Regions from separate parts of the Homo sapiens genome. Here region 2 is linked to region 1. Evidence: fine-mapped expression QTL. A gene starts in region 1. The other region holds a variant in brackets. All regions are shown on one strand. Distances are between the middles of the regions. Region 1 holds the start of DYRK3 (dual specificity tyrosine phosphorylation regulated kinase 3). Region 2 overlaps DYRK3 (dual specificity tyrosine phosphorylation regulated kinase 3).

Region 1 (8,329 bases):
GAACCCAGGAGGCGGAGCTTGCAATGAGCCGAGATAGTGCCACTGCACTCCAGCCTCAGTGACAGAGCGAGACTCTGTCTTAAAAAAAAAAAAAAAAAAAAATCTTGCTGAGAAATTGAAAAGGAATAAAGGAATATCCTTCTCACTCAGATATAAAACCCTACCTTTTCCCCAGCTCCCAAACCCTAAATCCCTGTAACACAAAACTTAACCCAATAAAAGCCTATGGGCAGATGATTTATAGTTTACCATGAGAATGTAGGAGCATCTTGAATAAATGAAGCTAGAAAACTTTGTAAAAAAAAGTAACAGGATCTCGGGATAGAGTCATGGCATAATGAAATGTAAGTGGCACCAAGAGGTCAAAAGGCATTTTTTATTTTTATTTTCTTTTTCAGCAAAATGAGTAAAGACAGCCAGGCGTGGTGGCTCACGCCTGTAAAGCCTGCACTTTGGGAGGCTGAGGTGGGTGGATGACCTGAGGTCAGGGGTTCGGGACCATCCTGGCCAACATGGTGAAACCCCATCTCTACTAAAAATACAAAAATTAGCCAGGCATGGTGGCAGATGCCTGTAATCCCAGCTACTTGGGAGGCTGAGGCAGGGAGAACTGCTTGAACCCGGGAGATGGAGGTTGCAGCAAGCCAAGATTGTGCCACTGCACTCCAGCCTGGGCGAGAGAGCGAGACTCGGTCTCAAAAAAAAAAAAAAAAAAAAAAAAGAAATGAGTAATGAGTAAGACATCTAAAATCTTCTTGCTCCCTCACAAAACTGTCATGCCTAACACCATGCAGTAAGAAATTAATTTTTGATCCTGAAACATACAATGTAAGTAACCTACTGGAAGGTAAATAGCATCGGCTAACTCTGAATCAAAGTAAAAATGACTTGGCTGGGCGCGGTGGCTTGCGCCTGTAATCCCAGCACTTTGGGGAGCTGAGGTGGGTGCATCACAAGGTCAGGAGTTCAAAACCAGCCTGACCAATACAGTGAAACCCCATCTCTACTAAAAATACAAAAATTAGCCAGGCATGTTGGTTGGTGCCTATAATCCCAGCTACTTGGGAGGGTGAAGCAGGAGAATCACTTGAACCCGGGAGGTTGCAGTAAGCCAAGATTGCGCCACTGCACTCCAGCCTAGGTGACAGAGTGAGAGTCCATCTCAAAAAAAAAAAAAAAAAAAATCAGTTAAAATGACTTAAAGTCAGATGTTAACACTTCAACCCAATTGCAAATAGTTTCCTATAGAGGTGAACCAATTGGCAGCAAGTAACCAAGCAATCTGATGGGCAACACAAGATGTATATGGTTCTGAAGTTCTTAGACATTTTGACATATTAAAGAAACAACTTGCAAAGAATGGAAAGAAACCCCACTACACTCCAAAAAGGGGACGAAAAATAGGGTGACCAGCCTTCAAAATATTTTTAGCTCACGTTTTGTATACTACTAGTGTTGAAAGTGGGGAAAGGGCCGGGTGCGGTGGCTCACGCCTGTAATCCCAGCACTTCCAGAGGCCGAGGGAAGTGGACCACTTAAGGTCAGGAGTTAGACCAGCCTGACTAACATGGTGAAACCCTGTCTCTACTAAAAATACAAAACTTAGCTGGGTGTGGTGGCAGTCGCCTGTAATCCCAGCTACTCAGGAAGGCTGAGGCAGGAGAATTGCTTGGACCCGGGAGGTGGAGGTTGCAATGAGCTGACATGACACCACTGCACTCCAGCCTGGAAGACAGAGTAAGACTGCGTCTCAGGAAAAAAAAAAAAAAAAAAAAGGAAAAAGGTTGATTTTAAGCAAAAACTGATGACCACAGGAAGGACTATGAAAAATAGAAGTGATTTTTCCATATAGAAACAATTTCAGGTCTTAAACACAGAAACGTGAAAGAGAAATATTACAAATGAGTCAATTCAATTATTCAGTTTGTTCATCTGATGACATATGCAGGAAATTTTAAAGTCATAGGATAGCCTCTCTTTGTCATGGAACTTGGCCAAACCCTGCTCTGCCTACCACTCTATGCATGCTGAAGGAATGCAAATTAATTTTATCTTAAGTTAAAAAAAAAAAAAAGCTGCCAAGCACGGTGGCTCACGCCTGTAATCCCAGCACTTTGGGAAGCCGAGGCGGGTGGATCACGAGGTCAGGAGTTCAAGACCAGCCTGACCAACATGGTGAAACCCCTGACTACTAAAAATACAAAAATTAGCCAGGCGTGGTGGCACGCGCCTGTAATCCCAGCTACTCAGGAGGCTAAGGCAGGAGAATCACTTCAACCCGGGAGGCAGAGGTTGCAGTGAGCCAAGATCATGCCATTGCACTCCAGCCTGGGTGACAGAGAGAGACTCCACCTCAAAAAAAAAAAAAAAAAAAAAAAAGCTAAGTGTCTGCAGTCCCCAAAATGATTAAGTGCATTAAAAACCAAACTGTTGTAGTTATCATCTATCTATAAAATGGTTCTCTTTAGTATACTAATAAACGAAGACTGCATTTCCACCGTGCAGGGGAAAAAAAACTCCTGCAGATCTATGAATTCTGACATGTTTTCTGTTTCTTATTTTTGTTAAAAGGAGCCTTTGTAATACTAGGTGTATATCATCCTATACAAAAATAAGCATTACCTAAATAAAAGTAGCATATTATTTTTTTCCTAGTGCTATATATTTATCCCAGTGGAAACTGAAATAAAAAGGTGAGCTCCAAACTGAAATCATTCTGAAAAGCTAAATTTGGACCACAGACATTGTTATTCCAAAGTCAAGAGAAATCAAAAATAAACCAAAAAAAAGTCTGGTTGTCAGTGATACATAAGTGTACCTTGAGCATTAAGTAGCACTTCCTCCTTTCCAAAACAATTCATGTACAAAGAATGACTTCTTTTACTTACATTTAGTCTTCTGGGTGGAGGTGGTTCAGAAGGATTGCAGAGTACATTTGAACAGGGGGGACATTTGGTTTCATCTATCATCATGAAGGTGTCATAGACACCATCCCCCAACCTAGTTAAAAGGATTACAGACAAAATCTGTCAGGAACTGAAGAATATAGAATCCTATGTCTTAACTGCTTCATATCTGCTACAAGGAACAGTAATAGAAATAAATGTCTACACTACATTTTGGCACTGAATACAAACAACTGGGGTATTTGGAAGAGGTACAGAGGAAATCCAACTTTTGTTTTTCAAGGACAGCATTTCTAGGTTTGTATTTTAAAACAGTTGAAACAAGTCCTTCTGAATGTTGTTAAACACAATAAGGACTATCAGAAGGATCTCATAATAACTTACTACTTGAAAATAAAGGCTAGTTTGAAACTGAAGCTCACAGAGAAAAAAACAGACCAGAAAAAACTAACAGAGGTAATAGTTTCTCAAGTCAGAGACTTGGATTCTAATCTCAGCTCTAACACTGGCTGTGCTACCTTCTCCTCTGAGCCTGTCTTCCCCAGTGCTACCTTCTCCTCTGAGCCTGTCTTCCCCATGTTAATGGGAAGACTAGCTCCAGTCTTCACACTTCTGGGTCTTACAGGCAAGAAATAAAAGGCCTTTTTAAGGCTGTCTTCTCTTTATTCATTTACTTACTTACCTACTTACATCTACCTAACCTGCAGAAAAATACAGTAAGTACTACAGCAAACGCTAAAAGGATGCTCTAAATTATAAAATGTATTGAATTTACTTCTCTTTCCACTTCATTTTCTGGTGGATGGTGGAGGCAAAATTCTAAATGATTAAGGATCACTTCTCTGTTCTTTAACACTGTGGCTCCACCACTGTAAGGGAACACAAAAGACGGAGAGGATTTATTTAATCCACAAGATGGCCCTGAATAATGTATTTCATCTGCTACCAAGAACACGGATTTCCCAGTTACACACATCAGCATTTCATTGTATCATTTTACATGATACACTATGAATATAACAATGATGATGTTGCAGAGGAATAATTTTTTAACGTCTTTTAAAATATCCTGGAATATTCTGGTCACCTTAAAAACTGTTTTGTGAAATTCATTCTAGAGTTTTCTTTATAGATGTGTTATAAAAATATAAAGGGAAAAAAACCGCTACAAATATTTTTGGAATGCTCTTTTTAAAAACATGCTCACATTCTGATAGAATTATTTATATTTTTAACAGGGAATGGCTTCACCAACAGAAACCAAATATTCTGGATGTGACTGACCCTTTGCCATAAGCCTGATAAAACAAACCAGGATAGGCGTCCACATATATAAAGAAAAAGAAAACGTGCAAAATTGCCTAGTGACTAACAGCCAGAGGAAATTAACAAGAGTCTGCATGCAAATAAAGCGGGGAGCAAGGGTCTCTTCTCTCCATTTAGGTGTAAAATACAACGCAAGGTGGGGAATCTCTCAAAATAGGATCCGGAGAAAGCCGTACCCAGCATAGCCCATAACCTGTACATTCGAAGCTAGACCGCACCCCTCACAGCAAACCCCAAGAGTTCAGCCGTTGGTTATCCGCTCTAAGCAACAGGGCTTCTTTCCAAGGTATTGCTCCCGGGCTCCCCCCCTTTAATAAAAAGCCCCACAAAAAGTCCTAGATTTTCGTAATCCCTTAACATATACCCCGATCTAGGGTTTCAGAGGGAATCCAGGGGTGGAAATTCTTCTTGCTCTAACTCCGCTCTAGCCCCGTCCCCCGCGCCCGGTGAGACAGGGATGGGGGGAGGGGGCCCTGATAGAGAGGAGGTGGGGGCGGTCCCGGGGAGGCAGTCAGACCCCTGCCCTCGTCCCTCCTACTGAGGGCTCACTCTACCTCCTCCCCACCCCCAAGCTTCGCTTGCCAGCGCCAGCCGCTCCCTGTGGCGCCTCCAGCCCGTTACCCCGTGGCGCCGTTACCTCCGCTGCTGGGGCGGGAGCCCGGCCCCAGGCGGCCCCGCATCCTTCCGCCCAGGCCCACGAGCTGTGCCTCCCATCTCCTAGCTCGGGACCCCGCGCGGGGAGAGGCGCCAGTTGGGGGTCCGGTCGGCCACGCCACCTACGCCGGGACGGCTGCCTCCGCGGCGCGACGCTCCCACGGGTACTCTCGACCAGACACTGCAGCTCAGCGCACTTTCGCTCCCGACTGGCCCCGGCTGGGAAGTGGGGAGACGCAGCTCCAGGGGCGGGAGGGGGAGCGGTCTGGTCGCCTAGCAACCGCGGCACGCCCCCGGGAAACGCCTCGGCGCAGCTACGGGCTGACGCACAGGGGCGGGGCCCGTGGCCGGTAAAGGCCACGCGGCGCTCCTAGCGGGTGCTAGTACTGGCGCGGGAGGCGGGAGGTTGGAGGCGAGGAGCTCGCGGCCTAGGCTGTTTGGGTCCCTGGCGCGAGCTGTAGACGGAGAGAGGGGTCCGGAGAAGGAGGGGTGAAAGTAGCAGTTAGCCCGCGATCTCAGAAGGGCTGCCCGCCCCTCACGGTCCCTTAATAGCACGTTGCGTCCTGGAAGTTCTAAAACGTCCCGCTTCAATATGAATTTTAAATTAGTGAAAACATATGTGTATTGTTTTAGGCTTTCCCACCGCGGGGACGGCCCTCCGGGGGTTGGTGAGTTACATAAGAAAGCAATAATAATAAACCCATTTATTGACACGATGCTTCCATTTATGAACATTTGATCTCAGTAACGGAGGTACCCGACGACTTTCGTCTTTTACAGACTTAGCTGGGATGCAGAATAGAAGCTGGGCCTTTGTCTGACTACCCTGCAACAGTCAGCCACAGACGGGAAGGCAGCGCAGGAAACTGAGGCCAAAGGAGCCGCGCTTCCTCATGAGCATGAAGCGGCAAAGCCTGAACTAGAAGCTTCTAACGCCTAACCGTCCTCTTGCCGCACCAGGACCTACCTCTGCAAGGCCCTTCCTGACTTTTTCCTTAGAATGTGTGTATATGTGTCTTTTTCCTTTTCTGATGCTAAGACACCTCAGAAACACCAATGTTAAGCAGATTTCCATCGTTGGAGGTTAAAACACCCGAATACAAGTGTTTTCTTGAGTGTGGCATCTGGTCAGATGTTTTATGGGTTGGTTTGTTTTTAAAAAAAAAAAATTTCCTGTTAGATGGGTGGTAAGAACCAGTCAGAGTTTGTAAACCCACCAAGCACGAGGCGGTCGGACCGTCCAGATTCTGGAGTCCAGAAGACACCAAACGTTCTCAGAATGCCGAACGCGGGCGCCACCTGGTGGGACTAGAACGCTTATTGTCCCAAATCAGCATAGCACACAGTTCCCATAAATCTTAAAAATTCCCATCCAAGGCTCATTTCCGTGTGACTAAAAGTCATATTCTCTGTTCTCGTGACTCCAAGTAAAAATGTCCCTAAAGAGCCAAAGTATCTTCACTGTATAAACTAATAATCTATTGGTTTGGGGAATTTTATTTTTTGTGATCAATGTTACTTTAGCCTTTCTATGATATACATATAAATAAAAAAGTTTTCTTCCATGATGATTTTTTAAAGTTTATTTTATAAATAAACTTTTTCTTTTTGTCTCTCCCTTCCCCCACTTTGCAACCAGAGCAATTCTGCTTTCACAGGGGTTTGTATTTGGGCTCTTACGAAGCTTTTGTTTGAAGAAAGAGTTCCATGGCAACGCAAAGATTGGACGAGGTTACTGTTGAAGTCCCTTCCAGCTCTAAGATTGCAAAATTCTATTAAATAATCCCCGTTCTCAGTACTTATGTAGACACCTCAGACCACTTTACTGCCCTCCCTAAACAGTTGAATGAGACTTGCCCCCACATGATTTCTTACCTCATTCTGAATCACTGCTCGTGAGAGGATTGCATCCGCAGTCTGTGCTTAAGACACATCTTCCAGAGCCAAGTGGAAGGGTTCCTGCTCCCTTTCTTGCTCCTAAGGTGGGAAATACAGAGGCCGCCTTTGTCTTTCGCCTATTGTTCCCATGGTCAAGGGAAAGAGGACTCCTCGAGGGTGCTGGAGCTTCATAAATCTCTGACCTTAGTGACCCAATGTTTCTTCAAAGATCCCCTGTATGATGGGGTTAACGTCCCATAAGGGATCTGGCAGGAGCCTCCACACCCCTGCTGAGCGCTGCCCTGTCCCCTCCAGCTCCCAAGCAGCTTCCACATCATTCATGCCCTTTCTTCCCCTCCAAAGCCTCATTCAAGAGTAGTTTAAAATCACCATTATCATTCTCCATGCAGTTAAAGTCAGATTTACCCACCATGAATTAGCCAAAAGTCATATAAGATGCATGTCTGTCCTTTGAAGCCAATTCCAAGACATCTGCAAAATAAGGTACCTGCAAGTTCTAATACATTGACTAAGGAAATAAACAACAGTAAAAAAGATGCAACTATTCCAGGATCTTAAAAACCCACTGGGACATTCACAATGTGATCAAAGTTTCAAATGCACAGATTAAGAAAACATCCCCGTGGCCACATTTACCTGGAATTTTGTGATAAAATAGCTGTTAGTAGGTTATGTTAAGTTTGGACAAGTTTCATTGACATTTCTGTACAGCAAAATGTGCCATAATGCCTACTGTGACATGTGCATCACAGAATTGGAAAATATTTTTTAAAAATCACTGGAGAGAACCAGTGAAACTTACTTTTTTCCTCAAGCTATGTTAACCTCAAATTGACCCGTGTTCCTGAAATGTATACTTGCTATTTTTTTCAGAAACACTGAAATCTAGCTCACTGGAACACTAAAGCCATGGCTTATTTTTCTGGAGCCTCAGAAAACTGTCTCTCTTCTATACCTCAGGCATCTCCTGTTCTTATGCCCTCCCCTCTCCACCAAGATTTGAAAAATGCCCCTTATTAACAAAGCAAACAAAAGCCATGCCCGCAGTGCTGTAGTACAGCTACAACTAAGACACACTTAGTTCTGTGTCTCCTAAACCCTAAAGGTTGTCCTTATTATCACAAACTCTTCACCTATTTTTCTTTTCCAAAACTTTTGCCATCTTTTTCCACTTGTTCCTCCTAAGTCAGCGTGACCAGTTCCACCTATAGCCCTGAGGGGTCCTATGAAGCTTCATTTCTGAAATCTTGAAACCAAACCAGGAGTCTTTCTAATCATCATTACCATTTGCTAAGTATTTATTATGTTCCAAGCACTATCTGAAGCACTTTAACATATTTGCTCATTTAAAACTCACAGTAGTCCCGTGAGATAGGTATTATCTCCATCCTACACTTCAGAAAACAGTCTCAGAGTTTAATAACTTGCCCAAGGTCACCCAGCCAGTAAGTGATGAACTGAAATTCAAACCCTGGTCTGTTTGGTTGAAAAACTCAGCCCCTCGACTGCCTGTATTCCACCTGTATTCCCTGAGCCTGGCAGGC
Region 2 (8,329 bases), 22 kb before region 1:
CATTACACCTCCTACCAAACACACTTTAATCATTTCTACATATCTCTGTTCTGTTAGAATGTGAGTTCATTGAGAAGAAGAGGTGCTCTGAAGAGGTGTAGCCCAAGTTCCCAGTGCCTTTTACTTATGAGGCCGGTGAATTTTTATTGATGGATTGCTTGATTAATTAGGACATCACTCTTGGAGTTGGAAGACAGCTGTCATTCAGAGAACCCAGCAGGAATGACATTTAGGTAAACTGATCCTTCCCAGGTGAGGTGGACATAATATGTGGAGTCACATGGCTACAGTCACATGGGGATCTTTAACCATGCCTATTATGTAAAATCTCAGGGATGGAAGATCTGAAACTTGACCTTGGGGTGGATCATGTTGCTGAATGACATTCTGCTACAGTGAAGGAAAGTACTCCCAGCGCTCTGCTCACCTGTCCTCCAATCCCCTCCTCCACCCCGTCTCACATTCCCACTTCTTCCATGAAGCCTTCCCTGAACACTTCTGCTTCTGTCTCCCAGCTGGACTACCAGGTTGCTGAAAATCCATTTCTGCGTTTTATCCTTGGTACACGGCAAAATGGCTGTGCATGGTTTGTGCTCAAAAAAATGTTTACTGCCGGGTGGGTGCAGTGGCTCACTAATCCCTGCACTTTGGGAGGCCAAGTTGGGAGGATTGCTTGAGGCTAGAAGTTCAAAATCAGCATGAGCAACATAGCAAGACCCCATATCTACCAAAACAAACAAAAAAATTAGCTGGGCATGGTGGTGCGTGCCTGTAGTCTAAAGTAGCTGGGACTACAGGTGCACACCACCATGCCCAGCTAATTTTTGTATTTTTAGTAGAGACGGGGTTTCACCATGTTGGCCAGGATGGTCTCGATCTCTTGACCTTGTGATCCACCCGCCTCAGCCTCCCAAAGTGCTGGGATTACAGGCATGAGCCACTGCGCCTGGCCGTAAAGAAAAAAAAAATTAAAGTTTCTTGATGCTGATGAAATTGCCTGCTTAGGAGCATAGAGATTTGCTATATATACTCTTCGCCCCTCTGGATCCACTCTCCACCCTTCTACACTGTGCTCTGTGTGCCACGAGGATGGCATTTTTTTTTTTTTTTTTTTTTTTTTAGTGATGGGGATCTCACTATGTTGCCCAGGCTGGTCTTGAACTCATGGGCTCAAGTGATCCTCCCACCTTGGCCTCCCAAAGTGCTGGGACCGCAGGTGTGAGCCACCGCACCTGGCCAAGGATGGCATTTTTTGACTATGCCAACCAGACGTGGCTTCCGATTAAGTTAGGCCAATGGGAGGCACAGGAGTAAGATAAGCTGGCACTAGGATGAGGCCAGCACATTTATTCCCGTGATTTCTCCCCACTCTCCAGAGGTTGCAGTGCCTGCCATCCTCTACCAAAAGCCACAGCTTCTGTCAGGCAGGCAGCTCTCTCCTACAACCTCATCCACCGCTATTGCTCGCTAAGATTCCAGCAACCACTCCCTTCCTTCTGCCCCATGTGGCTATCCTGGGTGTACTTCACTGTCCCTTAGTAGTTTCCCGAAACCCTGCCCACATTTTATAAATGGTGTCTTCTTTCGACTACCCAGTTATCCTACCTTGAGGGGGATTAGATACAGTACCCTCAGGAATGTCTCTGACCCCCACATCTAGCTCCATGTTGTCAGGGCTCCCCAGATGCCTGCTTGACATTGGTGCATTGATCCCAACCTGGCTCAGAATCACATTTGTTGATTATATTCCAGGAAGTCAGATGCTTCTGCATATAGCCCAGTTCCACCTTGATTTCTTAAATTTCCCAACCAGAGAAAATGGGCATTTGTCCCCAGTGTTAGGATTAATCTCCATGGAGTCTGGAGTTCCAGAATAGTCCTTGAAATTACAAATTATACTGGTTTCCCTCCCTATATGTCCACTGTTTTTCTAGACCAATTAGATATGTAAACTTGTAGTTGGTTTTTTACAGAGGAGGGACAATTTCTCTCTTGAAAAAATTCTATTGGCCGGGTATGGTGGCTTATGCCTGTAATCCCAGCACTTTGGGAGGCAAAGGCAGGCAGATCACTTGAGGTCAGGAGTTCGAGACCAGCCTGGCCCACATGGTGAAACCCCGTCTCTACTAAAAATACAAAAAATAAGCCAGGCGTGGTGGTGCATGCTTGAATCCCAGCTATTTGGGAGGCTGAGGCAGGAGAATCTTTGAACCCGGGAGGCAGAGGTCACAGTGAGCCAAGATCATACCATTGTACTCCAGCCTGGGCGACAAGAGCACAACTCCATCTCAAAAAAAAAAAAAACAAAAAAAAACTATTATCTAGTTGAGAGCTATTGAATGTGTCCTGCCTGCCCATGCCATGGCCATCGCTCTAGCTCGGGCTCCTGGAGTTCAGGCATCTTGGGGCCTACGACAACTCCTGTTCCCTCCACTCCCCATTCCACAGCACTGTATCATCCCACAGAGCAAGTTTTCTGTCCCTTCAGGATCCCTAGACGCCCCTATCCAGCCAACCCACTGCAATGAACAGGTGTTCTGGGGGTTGCACTGGTCCAACCACAATATATGTGGTACTTTCCTCAGCAACAGGATCTGAGCAAATGAGCCTCTTGACTCAAGGTCCCCCAACATCTCAGGGAACTCAGATCTGAACAGGGAGGTCTTCAGCTTGCTGAATCCTTTAACCTAGTTCTGGAACTTCAGTAAAAAGAAGTGAAACTTCTCCCAGGAGCCTCCCACTGTCTCCTGGCCTAAATTGCCTAGAGGGCCCTGGGAGTGGGATCTGAGACATGCTGCCTAAGGGGAAACTGAGGCCTAGAAAGGAGAAGCAGCCACAGGCCTGAGTCCCAGGAGAGAGGCGTGGGAGGAGGGAGAAGTGTCTGTGTTGCTGGAGATAGGCAGATGCTAGCATTCTGAGCTGGAAGGGGTGGAGGAGGGGGCAGGAATGCATGAAGGGGGTCAAAGCTATGGGAAAGAAAAAGATATGCAATGGTGTGTGTGTGTGTGTGTGTGTGTGTGTGTGTGTGTGTGTGCGCGCGCACGCACCGGGTGGGGTGTGACGGAAACAACGGCTTTGGCCAAATTAAGATTTAGTCCTGGAACTTCTGCCAAGCTTTTTCTCCCTTCCAGTCATCTGCCCTTACCAACGTTAGGCAGTCACAGTGTCCTTACGAACGTTATCACCCTTTCCCAGTGCCCACAGCTGGAGGCTGATAGCTGGAGGCGGACTGGCACTGGGGCAAAGTCCGCCTGTCCGGCTCCCTTCCTGGCCCACTCCCTCCCTGGCCCGAATTGCCCCTGCCCACTGGGCCTCCCTGTCCACCAGGCCCTGTAAAGAAGAGCTGGCACCCTCACCCCACAGCTCCTCATGCCAGGACAGATACCTGAGCTGGGAGATCACCCGACCTCTCTTTTTAACCCGCCTCGGCTCATGTGACGGGCTGGAGTCCAGGCAGACATATGCAGGTCAGGCATCCAGGCAGGCCACACAGCGCTATTTATTTCCTACTGGGTTCTCTTCACGCAGAGCTGGCAGGGTGGGACTTTCTCATTGTATTTAAGCCCCAGCTGGCGCCACAGAACTGCCCCAGCCTCAGCCTTTGCCCCTTTTCCAACCCAGTAGGTAAAAATAAACCCATTTGGCAGCTTTGGGGAGTGGGATGGGGACTGCTGAAAAGGCGCTGTAAACACGGCAGTGGGGGCGGGGTGGGGTTGGTCGCAGCAGGGAGGGGTCATAAACCCTGGCTCTGCTGTGAACTAAAGGGACGGGTGCTTGGTCTCTCCAGCTGGGCACTCTGCCTCCCACTTCTTCAGCTGGGAAGAGCCTGGGCACCATTCATTCGCAATCTCTGAGGCAGAAGGCACTGGAGATAGTGAGTGGTCACTGGTGCTGCGGGGTGGTGGCTAGGGTAGAAAGAAGGGAAACAAAGAGAAGTAAATGGTCATGGCTAGTGAGGGACGCTTCGTCCGAATGGGTCTTTTGAGGAACACTTGGCTAGGACACTAGTTCATGTCTACCATCATATGTATCTCACTGTACTTCAATTCTTAACATGTTTGACCTTCCATTAAATATGTGTGTTATGTTTGAATAGATCCAGCACAGCGCCTGGCCCACCGAGTACACTGGGCATTTACTGAGCGACTGAAGAGAAGGCAGAGAAAGGTGGAGGCGGGGCCTGGCGCCCCCTG[G/A]GGGGAGCCCCGTGAAAGTGCAGCCGCAGGGGTTGGGGAGGTAGGACATTTCCCACCCAGGAGGCTCCCGCAGCTGTTCCCTACCAGGTTTCTAACTTTACAACTTCGACTCTGTGGTCTGGGAAATCTCCGCCTTGTGTCTCCCTCCGGCCCCGGCCCAGCTTTCCCAGCGACAGCGGCGCCTCCCCTTCTGAATGTAGTAGAATTTAAGCCTGGGACTAAATAAAGAACAGAGGAAGTCCTCTCTTTGAAATGCAGCTGCCCCAGGCCAGGTTGGGCTAGGAAGGGGTAGCAGTAGAGTGTGTGACACAGCGGTTGGGAAACAGTTGTGACTGCAGGAAGACCCACCACGGAAGCGCCTGCCCCTCATTATTTTAGCAGCATTGAGGGGAAGCACCTGTGGTCCATTGCGCTTCTTGGTCCTCCAAAGAGCTCTGAAGCCTCCTCCCTCTCACTCATGCCACTTTGCCTGGACATCTCGCTGGCATTTTACAGCAACTAGTGACTTCAGTTCCAACGGGAAAAGGGATGAATGAAGAGTGTTTGCTGAGAGGGGAATGGAACCAGGACAATGTGGGACGCTGGCTCAAAAACTCGGGTGAAAGATCTCAGGGATGAGGTTTCTGAATTCATCTCGTGTATTCACCTCAGTCTCAAGTCTCTGGCTGGGATTGTTGGTGGGACAGAAGTAAGCAATGTTGTTTTAGCAACCAGAGAAAACAGCAACGCAGCCAGCTACTTGTTGAGGGAAATGAGGGAATCGGGGAAGAGAAGTGGGGAAGAGAAGTAGGGAAGCCTGGTCTGCTGGTTCCTCCTCCCCTGCAGATCTCAGGATGGCTAATCTGGGATAGAATCAGTTTGATGAGGGAGCAGAAAAAGCCAAACCCCTGATCTGAAATCATGGCAGAGAAACCTGAAGGGTAACCCCATTTCATCTTCAACGTCAGAAACGGAGGGTGGTGAGAGCCAAGTTGCTACTGGATAGCATGTCTTCCATGCCTTTCATTCCTACCATCTTTTCTCCTCCACCTTCAGCTCAGGACACAAGCCCCTTACTCTATACTATGCACAGACTCAGAGAACATTCTCTTCTGAAACTATCTCCCCTCCCCATCCCATTCACTTACAGAGTTACACAAATTTTAAACCAGAACAGAGTGCAGATAACTTGCTGGCAAGTTTTCTCTAAAGCCATGGCCTAGCTTTTGTTAGATTCTAAACATATGGTCAACAATGCTGCTGACGCTCCCTATCCTTGATAAATGCCATTAGGGTGCTTTTTTTGCACACAACAGTTGCTCAAGTCACTGGTGAAAGAATCAATGCACCAACAAAAGCCTATATAGACATGCTTGAGAACAGCAAAAGTGAGTGCAGCTTGGGTCAGGGCTCCACCCTGGGAATGATTAAGAATTCTCTGCAGTGGTTCAGATTGGGTGTCCTGGATCTGCTCCTCAATCAGGAGATCATCAACAGCCAGATTCAAAGGCAGGGCTGGGCAGCCTCTGCAAAACGAGGTCAAATCATGTCCAGGCTCACTCTACTGGAAGGTCAAGGTCAGTCCTTAGCATCTGCACAGACTAGCTGCAGTCACTTTATGTTTCTGCTTTTGGACTGACAAATTCCTTCCTAGAAAGTAAAAAGCAATGGGCAATGCACTAGTAGCCCTCATTGCCATTTTCACTGCCTTTTCTACGCGCTGATAGTTTTTGTCTTAAAAGGCATAAAGAGCCATGGGAGTATCCTGGTTTGTGGTGCCTTTGATCATGGGGTTTTTGTTGTTTTGTTTTGTTTTCGAGACAGAGTCTCCCACTGTTGCCCGGGCTGGAGTGCAACCTCGGCTCACTGCAACCTCCGCCTCCTGGGTTCAAGCGATTCTCCTGCCTCAGCCTCCCGTGTAGCTGGGATTACAGGTGTGTGCCACCACATCCAGCTAATCTTCTGTATTTTTTGTAGAGACAGGGTTTCACTGTGTTGGCCAGGCTGGTCTTGAACTCCTGACCTCAGGTGATCCACCCGCCTCGGCCTCCCAAAGTGCTGGGATTACAGGCTTGAGCCGCCGCACCCGGCCTGATCATGGGTAAATTTTAACAGCGATATTGCAAGCTGAATTTTCTTTTAAATTCTGCCTGCTCTATAATTCCGCTAGCAGCAATTAATGTCTCCAACCTGGAGTTGCTCCATGTGAGTATAGGAAGGTCCATGTCTAGCTTTAGGCTGGGGTCCCATAAGGCAGAAACCCTGTTCAAGAATCCAGGGAAAGCTGAGAACAGTGGCTCATGCCTATAATCCCAGCACTTTGGGAGGCTGAGATGGGCAGATGGCTTGAGGCCAGGAGTTCGAGACCAGCCTGGCCAACGTGGTGAAACCCCATCTTTACAAAAAAAAAAAAAAAAAAAAAATGCACAAGCACACAAAAAATTGGCCAGGCGTGGTGTTTCATGCTTGTAATCCCAACACTTTGGGAGGCCGAGGCGGGTGGATTACCCGTCAGGAGTTCAAAACCAGCCTGGCCAACATGGTGAAACCCCATCCCTATCAAAAATACAAAAAATTAGCTGGGTGTTATGGCGCATGCCTGTGGTCCCAGCTACTTGGGAGGCTGAGGCAGGAGAATCATTTAACCTGGGAGGCAGAGGCTGCAGTGAGCCGAGATCGTGCCACTGCACTCCAGCCTAGGCAACAGAGTGAAACTCCATCTTCAAAATAAAAATAAATACATAAAATTAGCTGGGCATGGTGATACATGCCTGTAGTCCCAGCTACTTGGGAGGCTGCAGTGGGAGGATCACCTGAGGCCAGGGAGGTTAAGGCTGGAGTGAACTGTATTCGTGCCACAACAATCTAGGGGACAACTCAAGGGTGGCGGAAGGCAGTCCCTGTTAGGTATCCAATTAGCTCCTGTTGCCAGGGCAATTGTGGCTCAGGGCCAGATCAGAAGCAGGCTGGAGCAGAGCCCACAACCCCTAAGAACATTGTTTTCCTCTTTCATTTACTCAATTCCCTCAGGCTTTAAAAGTTATCCCACAGACTGGGGTCTGGGCCTAAGAAAAACACCCAAACTTCCCAAATAAACTGTATTCCTTATTGCGTGTCAGGTTTCATCCTTAAGCTGAGCTTGGGCCCCAAGAGGGTAAATGGGAGAGCTGCTGATTCGGGTTTCTGGGAGATGGTTAGCCCTGAGCACTCTACATGTTTTCCCATTTTCCTTCACAGCAAGGCTGGAGCTCACAAACCAGACTGTGAACAGAAGCTCTGGGTACTAAAGGAAGAATACTGGTGGACTCTCTGTAAGGCTGTTTCTCAGGGCAGCCTTTTCCCTTCCCAAGATTTTCTTTCTGTATCATTGTCATCAAGCAAGAGAGGCTGTACCTGCAGCACAGCCCTAATTACCCAGCGACTGGTACTCACCTCCTTCAGAGTACAGCACACAAGTTCCTGCCTGCGACAGTTCTCAGCCTTGGTTTTGAAACAATCAGGATGCTAAAAAATTCTCAAAGCAATTCATTTTTATTTTTTAAAAAACACCCCAAAATAAAAAACCACTGACTCATCCATGCCAAACTGCACTTTCCAGAGGAAGCATGTCAGCAGACTCAAACGGACAATGGACAGAATCCCATGACACCAAAGTCATTCAAACCTGATGCTTCAGAGGCTGACATTCTGAGCTGAAATAGCCACAGGTCACCACTTGGCCTGATGTGGGACTCTCCTTTCTTTTTAGTCTATTCATGTGGTGGCAGAAGATGTGAGACTCTAGTCTCCAGTCAGGGAGGCTTCTCCTGTTATAGAAAAATATTAGAGTCTAGGCTTGACTTAGCGATGGGTGGGCTATATTAAGAATCATACCCTGCTTCTTCAAAGTCTAGACGATGCATTTGTAGTTCTGGCTTCTCTCAGGGGTTGTGGATCTCAGGGACCAGAGAGAGCTTTTAGTCCTTTTATGGATGGGTTCACTGTGACTCTAAAATCTTTTCTCATTGAAATTAGCCAGCATAATTTGACAGACACTCAGAAAAACACCCTAATCATATTAGGCTGAAGGCCAGGTCTGGAAGTAAATTCTTTAAAAGTTTGGGCTTCAGGAAGGATAGGTTGAAGGTGAAAATGGAGTATGTTAAAATGGGGATATT

The links.
Region 2: its variant is fine-mapped to the expression of DYRK3 in blood mononuclear cells (TOPMed, PIP 0.95).

What each region holds. Positions count from the first base shown.
Region 1 is chr1:206,632,321-206,640,649 of GRCh38, reverse strand. DYRK3 (dual specificity tyrosine phosphorylation regulated kinase 3) reads right to left here and starts at 5,114. Exons shown (of 3, transcript NM_003582.4): 1 at 4,870-5,114; 2 at 2,889-3,000. The coding sequence starts at 4,946. It overlaps DYRK3-AS1 (DYRK3 antisense RNA 1), which reads left to right and starts at 4,982. Exons shown (of 2, transcript NR_183645.1): 1 at 4,982-5,050; 2 at 5,667-6,454. RefSeq lists silencers at 4,675-4,784, 4,835-5,254.
Region 2 is chr1:206,654,514-206,662,842 of GRCh38, reverse strand. DYRK3 (dual specificity tyrosine phosphorylation regulated kinase 3) reads right to left here. Exons shown (of 3, transcript NM_003582.4): 3 at 7,685-8,329. Among named protein-coding and RNA genes, the nearest start is that of DYRK3-AS1, 23 kb to the right of the region's middle. The variant G/A (reference allele first, on the strand shown) is at 4,194.